Regions from separate parts of the Homo sapiens genome. Here region 1 is linked to region 2. Evidence: fine-mapped expression QTL. Tissue or cell type: whole blood. Region 2 holds a variant in brackets; the other region holds the start of a gene. All regions are shown on one strand. Distances are between the middles of the regions.

Evidence for each region. PIP is the estimated chance that this variant, and not a neighbour inherited with it, causes the effect.
Region 1: it holds the start of ELL, and the variant in region 2 is fine-mapped to the expression of ELL in whole blood (TOPMed, PIP above 0.99).

The regions. Positions count from the first base shown.
Region 1 is chr19:18,517,702-18,525,817 of GRCh38, forward strand. ELL (elongation factor for RNA polymerase II) reads right to left here and starts at 4,369. Exons shown (of 12, transcript NM_006532.4): 1 at 4,220-4,369. The coding sequence starts at 4,354. RefSeq lists silencers at 3,053-3,102, 3,833-4,142 and enhancers at 3,358-3,873, 3,874-4,389, 4,533-4,862.
Region 2 is chr19:18,452,503-18,460,502 of GRCh38, forward strand. ELL (elongation factor for RNA polymerase II) reads right to left here. Exons shown (of 12, transcript NM_006532.4): 6 at 5,703-5,827. Among named protein-coding and RNA genes, the nearest start is that of ISYNA1, 18 kb to the left of the region's middle. RefSeq lists a silencer at 3,047-3,263. The variant C/T (reference allele first, on the strand shown) is at 3,727.

The DNA of each region.
Region 1 (8,116 bases), 65 kb after region 2:
AAAAATTTTTTTTAATTAAAAGAAAAAGAAAAAAACTGGGCCAGGCACAATGGCTCATGCCTGTAGTCCCGGCACTCTGGGCAGCTGAGGTGGGAAGATCACTTAAGCCCAGGAGTTCAAGGCCGCAGTGAGCTATGATCACACCACTGTACTCCAGCCTGGGTGACAGAGTAAGACCTTGTCTCAAAAAAAAAAAAAAAAGAAGGAGAAGAAGAAGAAAAGAAAAGAGAAAAACTAGGCCAGGCACGAAGGCTCACTCCTATAATCCCAGCACTTTGGGAGGCCAAGGGAGGAGGATCACCTGAGGTCAGGAGTTCGAGACCAGCCTGACCAACATGGTAAAACCCCGTCTCCACTAAAAGTACAAAATTTGTAGGGCATGGTGGTGCATGCCTGTAATCCCAGCTATTTGGGAGGCTGAGGTTGCAGTGAGCCAAGATAACACCATTACACTCCAGCCTAGCAACAAGAGTGAAACTCTGTCTCAAAAAACAACAACAACAACAACAAAAACTAGGCCAGGCACGATGGCTCACTCTTGTAATTACAGCACTTTGGGAGGCTGAGGCAGGGAAATCACTTGAGCCCCGGCGTTTGAAATCAGCCTTGGCAACATAGTGAGACCCCGTCTCTACAAAAAAATTTAAAACTTAGCCAGGTGCAGTGGTGCACACCTGTGGCCCCAGCTACTCAGGAGACTGAAGCAGGAGGGTGGTAGTTCGAGGCTGCAGTGAGCTATGATCATGCCATTGCACTCCAGCCTGGACAATGGAGCAAAACCCTGTCTCAAAAAAAAAAAAAAAGGGGGCCCAGCGTGGCGACTCAAGCTTATAATCCCAGCACTTTGGGAGGCTGAGGCAGATGGATCACTTGAGGGGTCAGGAGTTTGAGACCATCCTGACCACATGGTAAAACCCCATCTCTACCAAAAATACAAAAATTAGCCAGGCACGGTGATGCGTGCCTGTAATCCCAGCTACTTGGTAGGCTGAGGCAGGAGAATCACTTGAACCCGGGAGGCGGAGGTTGCAGTGAGCTGAGATCACGCCAGCGCAATCCAGCTTGGGCGACAGGGCAAGACCCTGTCTCAAAAAAAAAAAAGGAAAGAAAAACTGCACAAAGTCCAAGGTAGAGTGAGAAGGCCAGCAGCTATGTGTACTGCTGCGCCTTTACCTTCCACCACGCTGCTCCAGCTGGCTACCAGGTCAACACCAGAGCCCTCTGGGGAGAGAAAACAGGAGGGCTTCTACCTGGGCTGTTCCCAGAGCTAGGATTACCTGCTCCTGGGAGCCACAGAGAAAGTTCCACAGCAAGTTCCTTTCTAGCCCCTGCCACACCTGAATTTGTAAAAGCCTCTTCACAATTAAAAACTAAAAATAGGCCGGGCACGGTTGGTCACGCCTGTAATCCCAGCACTTTGGGAGGCCGAGGTGGGCAGATCACAAAGTCAGGAGATCGAAACCATCCTGGCTAACACGAAAAATCGCACCACTGCACTCCAGCCTGGACAACAGAGCAAGACTCCGTCTCAAAAAAAAAAAAAAGAAATTAAAAATAAAAGCCCTCTCCACAAGTTGCAATTGGCAAACTATATAACCACAGCATCGAGGAATACAAAACTCTGGCTTCTGGGTGATAGAGTTGTCCACATGAGAGTTTGTCCATAACCAGTATATTTCTCTGGTTACACAATCAAGTTCTTCAAGCCACCTTCCTCAAGCTCACTACCCAAAACCACAGAGAGCACGGAGCTGCCGTGCCTTAGAAAAGTCCATCCACTATACTGCCCCATGGGCAAGATTAAATTCGAAAGTAGCCAAGCTGGCTGGGAGCAGTGGCTCATGCCTGTAGTCCCAGCACTTTTAGAGGCTGAGAAGGACGGATCACTGGAGGTCAGGAGTTCAAGACCAGCCTGGCCAACATGGCAAAACCCTGTCTCTACTAAAAATACAAAAATTAGCCGGGTGTGGTGGCACGTGCCTGTAGTCCCAGCTACTCGGGAGGCTGAGGCAGGAGAATCGCTTGAACCCGGGAGGCAGAAGCTGCAGTGAGCCGGGATCGCGCCACCTCAATGAAGCCTGGGCAGCAGAGTGAAACTCCATCTCAAAAAAAAAAAAAAAAAAGAAAGAAAGAAAGAAAGAAAGTGGCCAAGCCACTTAAATTACCAGACAGCTTTTTGAGAAAAATCCAAGTTTGAATCACCCCAAAATATAATCCAGCCAGCCAAGTTGCTCTGGATGGCTTGGAAAAGTTCTTCTAGGAAGCCCCTCCTGGCTGGTCAACACACTGCCCTACACAGCTGGGCTCCGAGCCAGAGGAGTTTAACAGTCCACAGTTACCTTCACCCTAACATGAGGAAGATCCAGCTTAGAGAGGGGATGTAACCAATACCCTAAAGTAAAAATAGCAGTGTGACAGCATGAGGTGGACACACAGGCGGACCTTCTGGACTGAAAAGCAAGCGAGGGCAGCATCAGAGAGAAGGCGGAGCTCCTGGTTCCTAAAGCACAGAAGACAGTGGTGACCAGGTACCAAGTCCATCGTAGTTATATGACTCACGAGCTCTCCCCCAGCTGTTTCTAGGAAAGCCTGCCTTCCTGCAGGACAAGTCAGAATCGCTCAGGGAAAAAGACCCAGGGCCAGAATTCTACCAGGAAGAGAGGCTCTGGCTGGTCATGGGCCAGCAGCTGCTGTCGCTGCCACTGTCTCCTCCTCACCTGCAGGGGCGCCTTAGCCTCATCTTGGGGAGTCTTTTTGACAAGGTGCGAACTTGCTCTTTCAAAAAAAAATGAAATCCTCATTCCATGAAGGGGAAAACTGCGACACCGGGACAGGGAGGAAATTGCCCAAAGACATGGGAAGAAGCACGGAAGGGGTGGGCACCGGGAGAGTGGTGGAAACGAAACAGGGGGAAGAAATTCTCGGCTTAGCTAATGGAGCTGAACAAGTTCGGGGCAGGAAGAAAGCCACATTCCTTCCTAGTTAGTCTCCCTCCTCCCCCGCCCGCGGCACCCCCCCACCCCCACCATCAACAGTATACACAAACACACACACACGCAGGGAGCAGGGCTCTCTGAGCCCGAGACTAGACCCACCCCCACTCCCTTTAGGGCAATGAAGCCCCCAATTTCCAGAAAAGGAGTTACAAGGTTCCTAAACCACTTCCCCTCGGGACCTGACCACTGGTCATCTGCAACTTCTGACCCAGCACAGACGGGGGGAGGGGGGGCCATGACACAAACAGAAATGAAAAAGGCAGGTTTCTGACCACGGCCCCAGATGCGCCCCAAAGTCAGGCCCAAGAGAACATACACAGCAGCCTCCCCTCCCCACCACCAGCCAGGTGGCAGAACCGAAACGCCTCAAACTTCCCCCAGATGGGCCCAAATCGGCCTCTGAGAAGTTCCAGAGTCAGCGGCCAGATGTGGTAGCCAGAGCTTCCTCCTGGGTGGCAGGGATCCCCTACATGTGCCCTGAGGATAACATCACAGCCGCCCCCAACACTTCCACTCTCCAAGGAACCTCTCTCCGGAGAGAGAGGGTCACCTGGGGGTAAGGGGAGCAGAAAGCTGGGACAAGCTGTCAGTTTCTGCCCAAACTCCCCGTCCCAAGAACCAAAGTGGCCCAACCTGAGTGGCTTCATCGGAACGCGTCAAAGCCAGCCCCCAGCTGCAAAGCCTTCCACCCAGACAGAACAGACCCCCACAAGTGCCTCGCTGACCACCCCCTGCCGGGCACCCAGACGATCGCTGCTTCCCAGGAGGACAGACACAGTCACCCCCACCAACGGCGCTGCCCCGGCCCCAGATGGAAAAGCCCCCAGCTTCCCCCTATCACGGTGCCGGGACCGTGCGGCCCACCGCCTCCTCGCCCCGCCGCCAGGTGCGCAAACTGGACCCTGCCCAGGTGCCCAGCAGGCCAGAAAGGCCCCGGACGCCGCCAGGTGCCGACACCGACGCCCCCCGGGCCCGGCGCGCGAGTCTGGGCCCCTCAGCAGCCCCGGGCCACCCGCCTGTATTGCCTCCTAGTGCTGAGAAGGAACGCGGTTCTCAGCGCTCCAGGCCGGACTGGCGCCCACTCCGCGCCCCGCCGGCCCAGGGACCCGCGAGCAGCACCACAGACCTAGCGTCTCCGAGCCCGGACGCCTCAGTGAGGGGAGCGCGAGGCCGGCCCGCGTCCGGACGTTCCCCACTGGCGCGCCGGGCGCCATGCCACTCACCTGTCTGGCGCGGTAGCTCTCGAAGGCCCTCAGGGCACTGTCGGTGAGCTTCACGTGGAACACCGACACCTTGCTGCCGTCGCTAACCCGCCCGCACGACAGCCCGTAGCTCCTATCCTCCTTCAGCGCCGCCATCTTGCGACCATCTCTCCCCCGCGCCCCCTTCCCGGCTCCAGCGCCGCCACGCCGGCCACGCCCCGCCCCGCCGCCCGCTGACGCGCTGCATTATTCATGAGACGCGGCTGGCCACGCCCCCCGAGTCCGACCAAACCAACAGTCGCCGCCACACCGGCAGGCAGCGCACTACATTATTCAGGAGACGCGCCTGGCCACGCCCCATGAGGGCCCCACAAGGCCCACAGTCAACGCCCCAAGTTGTTGCATATTCATAAGGCACTTATGGCCCCGCCTCTTCAGGCCCTAGGGGTGGCCACTTCCGTGAACGAACTCCGCCTCAACACGCGCACCCCTCCAGGCCCCGCCTCCATAGTATTATACATAACCCTGACTCAGCCAGCCAGGCGCGTCAAAGCCCCGCCCCTACAGCCGCTGACGTGATGCATTATTTATGAGATCTCTACAGTCTTCCGTCTTTGGCTTCTGTGGAAAGCCGCAGAGAGGGCGTGGAGGGGCGGAGCCGGCTCGAAACACGTGGGTGGGTAGGCCCCGCCGCGGGCCGGGAGGGTGGGCGTGGCTATGTAAACGGAGCGCGCGCGTTGGACGCTGGGTTGGACACATAAGGCATCCCTTAGGCGGGGTGGATGGGACTTCCACCCAGGGAAGGTGCTGGACCGGTAGGTGGAAGAGGAGCTGGTAAACTTTTTCTTATGAGATGAGTACTTTTAATAGGATAAAATCCTACATCCCCACAGTCCCTGAGCGATGGTGCAGTCCAGCTTCATTTTCCTATTTTAATTTTTTTTTGAGGGGTCTTGCTGTGTTGCCCAGGCTGGAGTGCAATGGCGCCATCATGGCTCACTGCACCCTCGACCTCCTGAACTCAAACTGATCCTCCTTGTCTGGGTCTGCTGAAATGCTAGGATTACAGGAGTGAGCCACCAAGCCCAGACTTCCATTTTCTTTTCTTTTCTTTTTTTTTTTTTTTGAGACGGAGTCTTGCTCATCAGCCCAGACTGGAGAACAGTGGCGCTATCTCGGCTCAATGCAACCATCGTCTCCTGAATTCAAGCGATTCTCCTGTCTCAGCCTCTCGAGTAGCTGGGATTACAGGCGCCCGCCATCATGCCCAGCTAATTTTTGTATTTTAGTAGAGATGGGGTTTCACCATGTTGACCAGGCTGGTCTTGAACTCCTGACCTCAGGTGATCCGCGCGCCTCGCCCTCCCAAAGTGCTAGGATTACAGGCGTGAGCCACCTCCCCCAGTTTTTGTTTGTTTGTTTGTTTTTAGACAGAGTTTCGATTTCCTTGCCCAGGCTGGAGTGCAGTGGTGTGATCTCGGCTCACTGCAACCACCGCCTCCTGGATTCAAGCAATTCTCCTGCCTCAGCCTCCCGAGTAGTAGCTGGGACTGCAGGCGCCCATCACAACGCCCAGCTAATTTTTTGTATTTTTAGTAGAGACGGGATTTCACCATGTTAGTCAGGCTGGTCTGGAACTCCTGACCTCAAGTGATGCACCCACCTCGGCCTCCCAAAGTGCTGGGATTACAAGCATGAGCCACTGTGCCCGGCCAGCCTTCCATTTTCTAAAAAGCAACTTCATTGAGTCACATTTTACATATAAAATATATTCCCAATGCTGTGTAGCTGTCACCACTATCTAATTTCCGAGATTTTTTTTTCTTTTTCTTTGAGACAGAGTTTCACTCTTGTTGCCCAACCTGGAGTGCAACGGTGCCATCTCAGCTCGTTGCAACCTCCGCCTCCCAGGTTCAAGCGATTCTCCTGCCTCAGCCTCCCGAGTAGCTGGGATTACAGATGCCCACCACCACGCCCAGCTAATTTTTGTATTTTCAGTAGAGACGGGGTTTCACCATATTGATCAGGTCTCTAACTCCCAACCTCAGGTGATCCGCCTGCCTAGGGCTACCAAAGTGCTGGGACTACAGGCGTGAGCCACTGCGCCTGGCCAAGGGAGGAGCTGGCTTGGAGGGCCAACCAGCTCGCTCTGTGATCTTGTGAAAGGCACCTCCTGCTTCTGAGCCTCTGTGGATTCACTTCGGAAACAGGAAACAGCAATAAGAGCAGTACTCAGGACCTAGCAAGGTGTCTCACACCTGAAATCCCAGCATTTTGGGATGCCATGACGGGAGGATCGCTTGCACCCAAGGGCTTGAGACCAGCCTGGGTAACAGGGCTAAGCCCCCTCTCTACAAAAAAATTTAAAAAATTAAAAAAATTAGCCGGGCATGGTGGAGCACCCCTGTGGTCCCAGCTACTCCGGAGGCTGACATGGGAGGCTCTCTCAAGCCCATGGGAGGTTGAGGCTGTAGTGAACTATGTTCGCACCACTATATTCCAGCACTCCAGCCTGAGTGACAGAGTAAGACCCTGTCTCCAAAAAAAAAAAAAAAAAAAAAAAAAAAAAGCCAGGCCCCCAGTGGCTCACGCCTGTAATCCCAGCACTTTTGAAGGCCGAGGGGGCTGGATCATGAGGTCAGGAGTTCGAGACCACCACGACCAACATGGTGAAACCCCGTCTCTGCTAAAAACACTAAAATTAGCCAGGCATGGTGGCACACGCCTGTAATCCCAGCTACTCAGAAGGCTGAGGCAGGAGAATAGCTTGGACCCAGGAAGCAGAGCTTGCAGTGAGCCGAGATCGTGCCACTGCACTCCAGCCTGGGTGACAGAGCAAGACTCGGTCCCAAAAAAAAAAAGTATTTCTCCACGTCTACTTTACATTTGATTCCCCAGTGGATCTCAATGAGACCCCAGGAAAAATAAGGCAGAACTTATCAGACGTTGGCATGCTCTGCAGAAGTTTCTTTTTTTTTTTTTTTTTTGAGACGGAGTCTCACTCTGTCGCCCAGGCTGGAGTGCAGTGGCACAATCTCGGGTTCACTGCAGCCTCCGCCTCCTGGGTCCAAGCGATTCTCCTGCCTCAGCCGCCCGAGTAGCTCGGGTTACAGGCACGTGCCACCACGCCTGGCTAATTTTTTGTATATTTAGTAGACGGGGTTTCACCGTGTTAGCCAGGATGGTCTCGATCTCCTGACCTCATGATCCGATGATCCGCCTGCCTCAGCCTCCCAAAGTGCTGGGATTACAGGCGTGAGCCACCATGCCTGGCCTTTTTTTTTTTTTTTTTTTTTGGAGACAAGTTCTCACTCTGTCACCCAGGCTGGAGTGCAGTGGCATGATCTCGGCTCACTGCAGCCTCCAACTCCTGGGCTCAACCCATCCTCCCACCTCAGCCTCCCAAGTAGCTGAAATTACAGGCATGCTCCACCATACTGGGCCAATCTTTTGTATTTTTTGAAGAGATGAGATTTTTCCATGTTGCCCAGGCTGGTCTCTAACTCCTGGGTTCAAAAGATCCTGTCGCCTAGCCTCCCAAAGTGCTAGGAAGTGCTAGGATTATAGGCCATAAGCCACTGCACCTGGCCGTCTGCAGACATTTTTGTTTCTTTGTTTTGAGACGGAGTTTTGCTCTTGTTGCCCAGGCTGGAGTGCAGTGGCACGATCTCGGCTCACTGCAACCTCTGCCTCCTGGTTCAAGTGATTCTCCTGCCTCAGCCTCCTGAGTAGCTGGGATTACAGGCACACGCCACCACACCCAGCTAATTTTGTATTTTTAGTAGAGACGGGATTTCACCATGTAGGTCTCGAACTCCTGACCTCAAGTGATCCACCCGCCTCGGCCTCCCAAAGTGGTGGGATTACAGGCGTGAGCCACCGTGTCCGGCTTTGTCTGCAGAAATTTTTAAGAACTAG
Region 2 (8,000 bases):
AGAGACAAAAGGAGGAGTGAAGACACCGGAAAGCATAGCAGAAGCATGAGTGGTGACTGCTGCAGGATCCAGAGAATCCAGGGCCCAGAGCAAGAGGCACCACGACCTCAGGGGACAACAGACTGCTGCAGGGCCATCCCCCACAGCTCTACTCCAGATCCTCATCACTGCTGGTGGGGCTGCAGGACAGTGAGCCCAGGGCTGTCAGGCAGCAAAGAGGCTCGGGCCACTCCTCCAGGCAGTTGGGAAGTTACCTGGGCCACAGCTGGACAACAGGATGGCCAGATGTGTGGCCTCAGGAGAAGAAGAAACAGGGCCCAGGACTAGGGCACATCGGGATTCAGAGGCCCCAAGCTGTGCAGTGTCCCCAACGGCTGCACTGCAGCTTCCAGGCAACAAACGTCAGACCTCAAAACAGAGGAACACGAAAATACATTTGAAAAGAGACTCCACAGGGAGATGAAAACGTTAAAAAATAAATCAACAGGCCGGGCGCCCATGGCTCACGCCTGTAATCCCAGCACTTTGGGAGGCCAAGGCAGGCGGATCACCTAAGGTCAGGAGTTCGGGACCAGTCTGGCCAACATGGTGAAACCCCGTCTCTCCTAAACGTACAAAAAAATTAGCCGGGCATGGTGGTGGGCACCTGTAACCTCAATTACTTGGGAGGCTGAAGCAGGAGAATCACTTGAACCCGGGAGGCGGAGGTTGCAGTGAGCAGAGATCATGCCATTGCACTCCAGTCTGGGCAACAAGACCGAGACTCCGTCTCAAAAACATAAAATAAATAAATAAAAAATGCCAGTTTTCGTGTCCTTGGAAAAACAAAAGCTCTGAATAGACGTTTCTTCAAAGAAGCTATACAAATGGCTAAAAGCACATAACAAGATGCTCAATGCCATGTGTCATCAGGGAAATGCAAATCAAAACAACGAGACACTGGCTACTCTGGGCACACTGCCTATGGGTTAGCCCTGCCCTGCAAGGAGCAATAATGAACAAACAAACCCACCAAACAAAAAACAAACAACGAGATACCACTTCACACACACCCAGGGATGACTGGAATAAAAAAAACAGAAAATAGGTTGGGCGCAGTGGCTCACGCCTCTAATCCCAGTCACAGCTCACTGCAGCCTGGATCTCCTGTGCTCAAGTGATCCTCCCACCTCAGCCTCTAGGGTAGCTGGGATCACAAGAGCACAACACCATGCCTGGCTAATTTTTTCATTTTTTGTAGAGATGAGGGTCTCACTATGTTGCCCAGGCTTGTCTAGAACTTGAGCCCAGGCTTGGGCTCAAGCAATCCTCCCACCTAAGCCTCCCAAAGTGCTGACATTATAGGCATGAGCCACCACGCCCGGTCCTGATTCAACATTCCTCACAGCTACAAGTTTCCACAGATTACATGTCAGCCACACAGCGTATAATTCCATTGATCTGAAATGTCCACAACAGGCAAATCAATAGAGACAGAAAGCAGATTAGTAGTTACCAGGGGCTGGGAGCATGGGAGGGAATGGGGAGAATGACTCCTGATGGGGATAGGGTTTCCTTTTGGGGAAATGAAAATTTTCTGGAACTAGACAGAGGTGGTGGCTGCACAATATTATGAACGTACAAAATGTTACTGAGCTGCTCACTTTAAATGGATGACTTGTGTTACATGAACTGTATCTGAATAAAGCTGTTATTCTTTAAAAAACATCCTTAGAGGCCGGGCCCGATGGCTCACGCCTGTAATCCCAGCACTTTGGGAGGCCGAGGCAGGTGGATCACGAGGTCAGGAGATCGAGACCATCCTGGCTAACACGGTGAAACCTCATCTCTACTAAAAATACAAAAAATTAGCCGGGCATGGTGGCGGGCGCCTGTAGTCCCAGCTACTCGCGAGGCTGAGGCAGGAGAATGGTGTCAACCCAGGAGGCGGAGCTAGCAGTGAGCCGAGATCGCGCCACTGCACTCCAGCCTGGGTGACGAGCAAGACTCCGTCTCAAAATAAATAAAGAAATAAATAAAATAAACATCCTTAGAGTAGGTTAAAAATGACATCCTGGGCTGGGCATAATGGCTCATGCCTGTAATCCCAGTACTTTGGGAGGCTGAGATGGGCAGATTACCTGAGGTTGGGAGTTCCCGACCAGCCTGGCCTGCATGGTGAAACCCTGTCTCTACTTAAAAATACAAAATTAGCCGGTCGTGGTGGCAGGCGCCTGTAATCCCAGCTACTCGGGAAGCTGAGGTAGGCGAATCACTTGAACCTGGGAGGCAGATGTTGCAGTGAGCAGAGATTGCGCCACTGCACTCCAGCCTGGGCAACAGAGTGAGACTCAGTCTCAAAAAAAAAAAAAAAAAAGGCATCCTGGCTGGGCACGGTGGCTCACACCTGTAAACCCAGCACTTTGGAAGGCTGAGGCCCTTGAGGTCAGGAGTTTGAGACAAGCCTGGCCAACATGGTGAAACCCCAGATCTACTAAAAATACAAAAAATTAGCCGGGCATGGTGGTGCATGCCTGTAATCCCAGCTACTCAGGAGGCTGAGGCAGGAGAATTGCTTGAACCGGGGAGGCAGAGGTTGCAGTGAGCCAAGATTGCGCCACTGCACTCCAGGTTGGGCGATAGGGTGAGAGTCCCTCTCCAAAAAAAAAAAAAAAGAAAGAAAGAAAGAAAAAGACATCCTTTCCATTAAATAAGAACATGATGAGTTAGGCCAGGCACAGTGGATCACGCCTGTAATCCCAGCACTTTGGGAGGCCGAGGCGGGTGGATCATGAGGTCAGGAGTTCCAGACCAGCCTGGCCAAGATGGTGAAACCCCATCTCTACTAAAAATACAAAAATTAGCCAGGCGTGGTGGCGGGCACCTGTAATCCCAGCTACTCGGGAAGCTGAGGCACAGAATTGCTTGAACCCAGGAGGCGGAGGTTGCAGTGAGCCGAGATCATGCCACTGCACTCCAGCCTGCGTGACAGAGCAAGACTCTGTCTCAGGAAAAAAAAAAAAAAAAGAACATGCTCCTACGAAAACGCAATGGGGAAGACTCTTAGAAACTAGAAATAATAGGCCTTGCATGGTGGCTCACATGTGTAATCCCAGTGCTTTGGGTGGCTGAGGCAGGCAGATCACTTGAGGTCAGGAGTTCAAGACCAGTCTGGAGAACATGGTGAAACCCCATCTCTTTGCCTAGGCAACAGAGCAACACTCTGTCTCAAGAAAAAAAAAGAAACTACAAATAATAGTAAATTAAGAGACAGGATGAGAAATGTCAAAGAAGTCTCCTAAAAGGAGAATAAAAAAGAGCAAGAGATGAAAACCAGCTGGGCGCGGTGGCTCACGCCTGTAATCCCAGCACTTTGGGAGGCTGAGGTGGGCGGATCACCTGAGATCCGGAGTTTGAGACCAGCCTGACCAACATGGAGAAACCCCATCTCTACTAAAAATACAAAATTAGCCGGGCATGGTGCGCATGCCTGTAATCCCAGCTACTCTGGATGCTGAGGCAGGAGAATGGCTTGAACCCAGGAGACGGACGTTGCTGTGAGCCGAGATCGCGCCATTGCACTCCAGCCTGGGCAACAAGAGCAAAACTCCATCACAAAAAAAAAAAAAAGAGATGAAAACCAGGAAGAGGAGGACAGACTCTAGCAGCCTGCCAAGAGCAGTTTGAGGTGGTGTGCAGTAGGATAGGCCTTTCCACTACCACACACAGGACAGAAGGACGGATAGA[C/T]GGATAAGGCAAGTTTTCAGCCTGCGGGGGCCGTGGTGCCCACCATCCCAGAGTAGGTACCTGGCCAGCCCCTGGCTCTGTGGACCAGCACAGGGTTGGGGTGGGAAGCCTCTGACCTTCAACGTGGAGGGAAAGCATCTTGGACTCTACAAGTCTAGATGTGATCAACCGCCGGCTCAGCAGGACCATCGTCTGGGCATGAAGATGTGGCCAGCAGTCCTCCTGGAGCCCTGTCCTCAGAGAGGTGCTCCAGGAGCTGTGCTCCCTTGGCACCAGGGAGGAGCAGGAAGGAGGAGTATATAGACTCTGGCATGGGGCTCACAGGAGAGGGGAGTGGCTCAGGTTGGAGGTAAGGGCACCAGGCAGTGTGTGGCTTGGGCAGAGGAATCAGGAACTCTTGGGGGGACCTGCAGGACCCCTGACCCATGGACAGTGATGAGAGGAGATTTGGATACCAGGGACAGATCGGGTTTGGACATCATGAACAAAGAGAACATGAGTGGAGAAACCACCCCCCAAAGCCACATGTGGTGCCAGCTCAGCTGGGGAGGCTCCTGCAGTGACTTGGGCCCCCACATCCCATCTGTCTCACGGCCTGCACTAGGCTAACGGCCTGCACTGGGCTAGCCCAGCTGGTAACAAATACTCCAAGGCCCTGCTTTGATATACACGAAGCCATGGTGTCAAAAACTGCTATAAATGGGGCTTTCTTAGGGATGGGGTGCTAAATAGGAAAAAAAAAAAAAAACAGCTATGCAGAGGGGCACCGCAGGTCACCTTCTATGTGGTTATGGCCCAGGGACATCAACCCTGCCCCCTGCACGCTAGTGGAAGCTTGTGAAGGCAGTGCTGATCCCCATGCCGGCCCAGAGTGAAAGCAGAGTGCCAAGGGGCTGGCATGAGCCCAGCAAGCTCACTCAGCAGACGGAACATGAGCCTTGAATCAGGGGAGCTGGAGGCGGCTCTGGAGCCTGCATCCCGGGGAAGCTCCCCGACGCCCCAGAGGTGCAGCCCAGCCTTCTCCACCTCACTCCACTAGCTCTGGGCAGTTCTCCTTCCAGTGCCCTAAGGGTCTGAGGAACCCAGGGGGCCAAGGGAGAGGACACAGGGTATGAGGATGGGGGCGGGTCTTCTGCCAAGACTGTGCCCTCCGCCAGCCTGCCGCCAAGCCAGGGCAGTGCCCCGCAGGCCCCTGACCTGCACACCCAGGGTGGACAGGCAGGCACTACCCTCTCAGGGGAGCAGAGTGGACCCCCAACTTCATTCTGCTTTCCAGAGGCAATTACTGCTTTAAACAGCTGAACTTCCAAAAAACAACTACAAACTCATAAATACCTCCGAGTCCCTGAGAAATCACTTACGGACTAATTAGCAGATTGACCTGCTTCACAGCCCGAGCTCCCCTAGCTGGCAGCAGTGGAGAAGGAAGTCATTAGCCGCCTGCCTCCTTAACCACTGCTCCCCTGAGCTGCTGCCACTTCTGACCCTGGGTCCCAATTAGCCTGAGGGGATGCATTTAATTAACGCTGCTTAATGACGCCTGCCCTGCCGGGAGTGTCGTTTGGCCTTATTTCTCTCTACTTCAGGTTCTTGAGAGGCTCTTTTCAAAAAGTCAGTGAACTTCCCAGGCCCTGTGGGGATGCCCAGGTTGTGGAGGGAAGCATGAAGGGAAGTTGGGGACAGCTGAGGAGGGTCTCAGCAGACTGAGGCCTTTTGTCTGAAGATTCCAAGGTCGGGGCCAGTGACTCACACCTCCGTCCCACTCTGTGAGCGTGGCCTTCCCCCACCACGGGACACCCTGGGGCACCACGTGGGCAGTAGGGAGGATGGCCAGAGAGGCCTACTTGGACCCTTCCATCCTGCTCCCAAGCCCTGTGGCCTTCAGGACCACACAAGACCACCCCAGCATCCTCTGGGTAAGCTCTGGCTGCCTTCATGCGGGTGGGGACATGCTGGGGGATGGGAGGCGGCATTACCGGACGAGCACCCGCTTCAGCAGCTGCTGGTCCCCCTCCGAGTAGCCAGGCCAGTCCTTCTGCACATCCTTGTACATGCAGTCCTGCAGTGTACACGTGCCGTCCTTAGCACTCATGTTGGCCACCTGCAAGACAGAGCCAGCCATCACTTTGTGGGAATCCTGAGAGAGACGGGGGACTAGAGAAAAAAGATCTGATAGTGGGTTTGGGAGGGTGTGCAGAGACAGTGGGAGACAGACAGAGACAGAGGAGAGGAAAGAGGATGGCCCACTACCGATCCGTGATGTCTCCCACCCCCAGTTCCCCCGCACACAATCCTCAGGGTGCAGAAGGGATAATGAGGGTCATGAAGGCAGGTCCAGACTCAACTGTCTTAGAGGTGCTGGGGCCAGGCTGGCTCCAAAAAGGGGAGGGCTACCACCTGCAGTACTGAGACCCCATCACCTGCCCCCTGGCCCCTCTAGCCTGCTTTTTTTCCTTTTTTGATACAAGATCTTAGCTCACTATAGCCTAGACCTCCTGTGCTCAAGCGACCCTCCCACGTCAGCCTCCCAGGTAGGTGGGGCCACAGGTGTGCACCACTATACTCCAGCTAATTTTTTTTAAGAGATGGGATCTCGCTATGTTGTCCAGGCTTGTCTTGAACCCCTGGGCTCAAGCGATCCTCTGATCTCAGCCTCCCAATGTGCTGGGATTCCAGCCACCACACCTGGCTCCTATTTCTTCCAGGCTGGAGTGCAGTGGTGTGATCAAGGTTCACTGTAGCTGCAAACTCCTGGGCTCAAGCGATCCTCTTGCCTCAGTCTCCCAAGTAGGTGGGCTATAAGCATGCACTATCATACCCAGCTAATTTTTTGTATAGATAGGATCTCAGTATTTTGCATAGGCTGGTCTCGAGCTCCTGGCCTCAAGGATCCTCCCACCTCAGCCTCCCAAAGTGCTGGAAACAGGCGTGAGCCACCGCGCTGGGCTCCACCCCATTTCTGATCACAACTCCCAGGGAAGAGTCAGCCACGGCTGGGGATGCTGGGTGAGGGGTACCTCTGGGGCCACGTCTGAGCCCACCTTCCCTACAACCAGCCTGCCTTGCTGTTGCCGGTTGACCAAAGCTAAGTTCGTCTCCCAGACTGCTAACAAAGATGGATTCAGAACGTCTGCCTTAGAGGGATCTGAGGAAGCTCCAGGTCACTGCCCTGAGTGGGTGCTGCGTGCTGGCCTACAGGGCACTCTGGTCTCCATCTTGCTGCAGGCATAGCAGTCACTGTTTTCTGCTGCATCTGACATGGCTCTGCGTCACAGCGTATCCCATGGGGAGCATTTTTTTTTTTTTTTTGAGATGGAGTCTCGCTCAGTTGCCCAGGCTAGAGTGCAATGGCGCTATCTTGGCTCACTGCAAGCTCCGCCTCCCGGGTTCACGCCATTCTCCAGCCTCAGCCTCTGGAGTAGCTGGGACTACAGGCACCCGCCACCACGCCCGGCTAATTTTTTTGTGTGTGTATTTTTAGTAGAGATGGGGTTTCACCATGTTAGCCAGGATGGTCTCGATCTCCTGACCTCGTAATCCACTTGCCTCGGCCTCCCAAAGTGCTGGGATTACAGGCGTGAGCCACCGCGCCCGGCCCATGGGGAGCATTTTTAACAGTTGAGTAATATCCCACCCCCAAACTGCTGCCAGTTTCTCTGTAGCATAAACAGACATTACTGTGTGCAGTTTTTTTCAGGTTGGCAACAGTTTCCTTCGACGGGATTCCCAGAAGCCAGATTAGTAGGTCAAAGGCTGAATATTTTTATGGCTCATGACAGGCTTTGCTAAATATTACTCAGCCGTCAACACCCCTCCCCTTGAAGGATAGGCTTGCGGGTTTCCCTGGGGCTCAGCCAGTCCTAGAGGTGGACACCTTCCATCTCTGCTCTAGATTTTTCCACAGAGGGAGGGCCAAGCACCTTTGAGGCATGCAGTTTTGTCACTGCCATTCCTCAGCATGTCTGAGGGCCTGTGAGGGGCTGGAAATGACCAGTCTGGGTGAGGCACATCCCCCTCCTCTTCTACAAGCCAACAGTGTCCTGCTGACCCCCACAGCTGCTTGGGGGGAAGCAGCTGCATAATGAATATAGAAGCAAGAAGCAGACGAGCTGTCCAGGGGAAGTCACAGTGGCACAGGAAGGGACAATCTGCCTGCAGATGCTGGCCAGGCCTGCTCCCAGGAGGCACTGAACCAAAGTCACCTGGAGAAGCCAGGCACCAGCACAGACACCTCCTGGCCAGGCCAATGCAGGTCCCACATCTGATGACTCCAT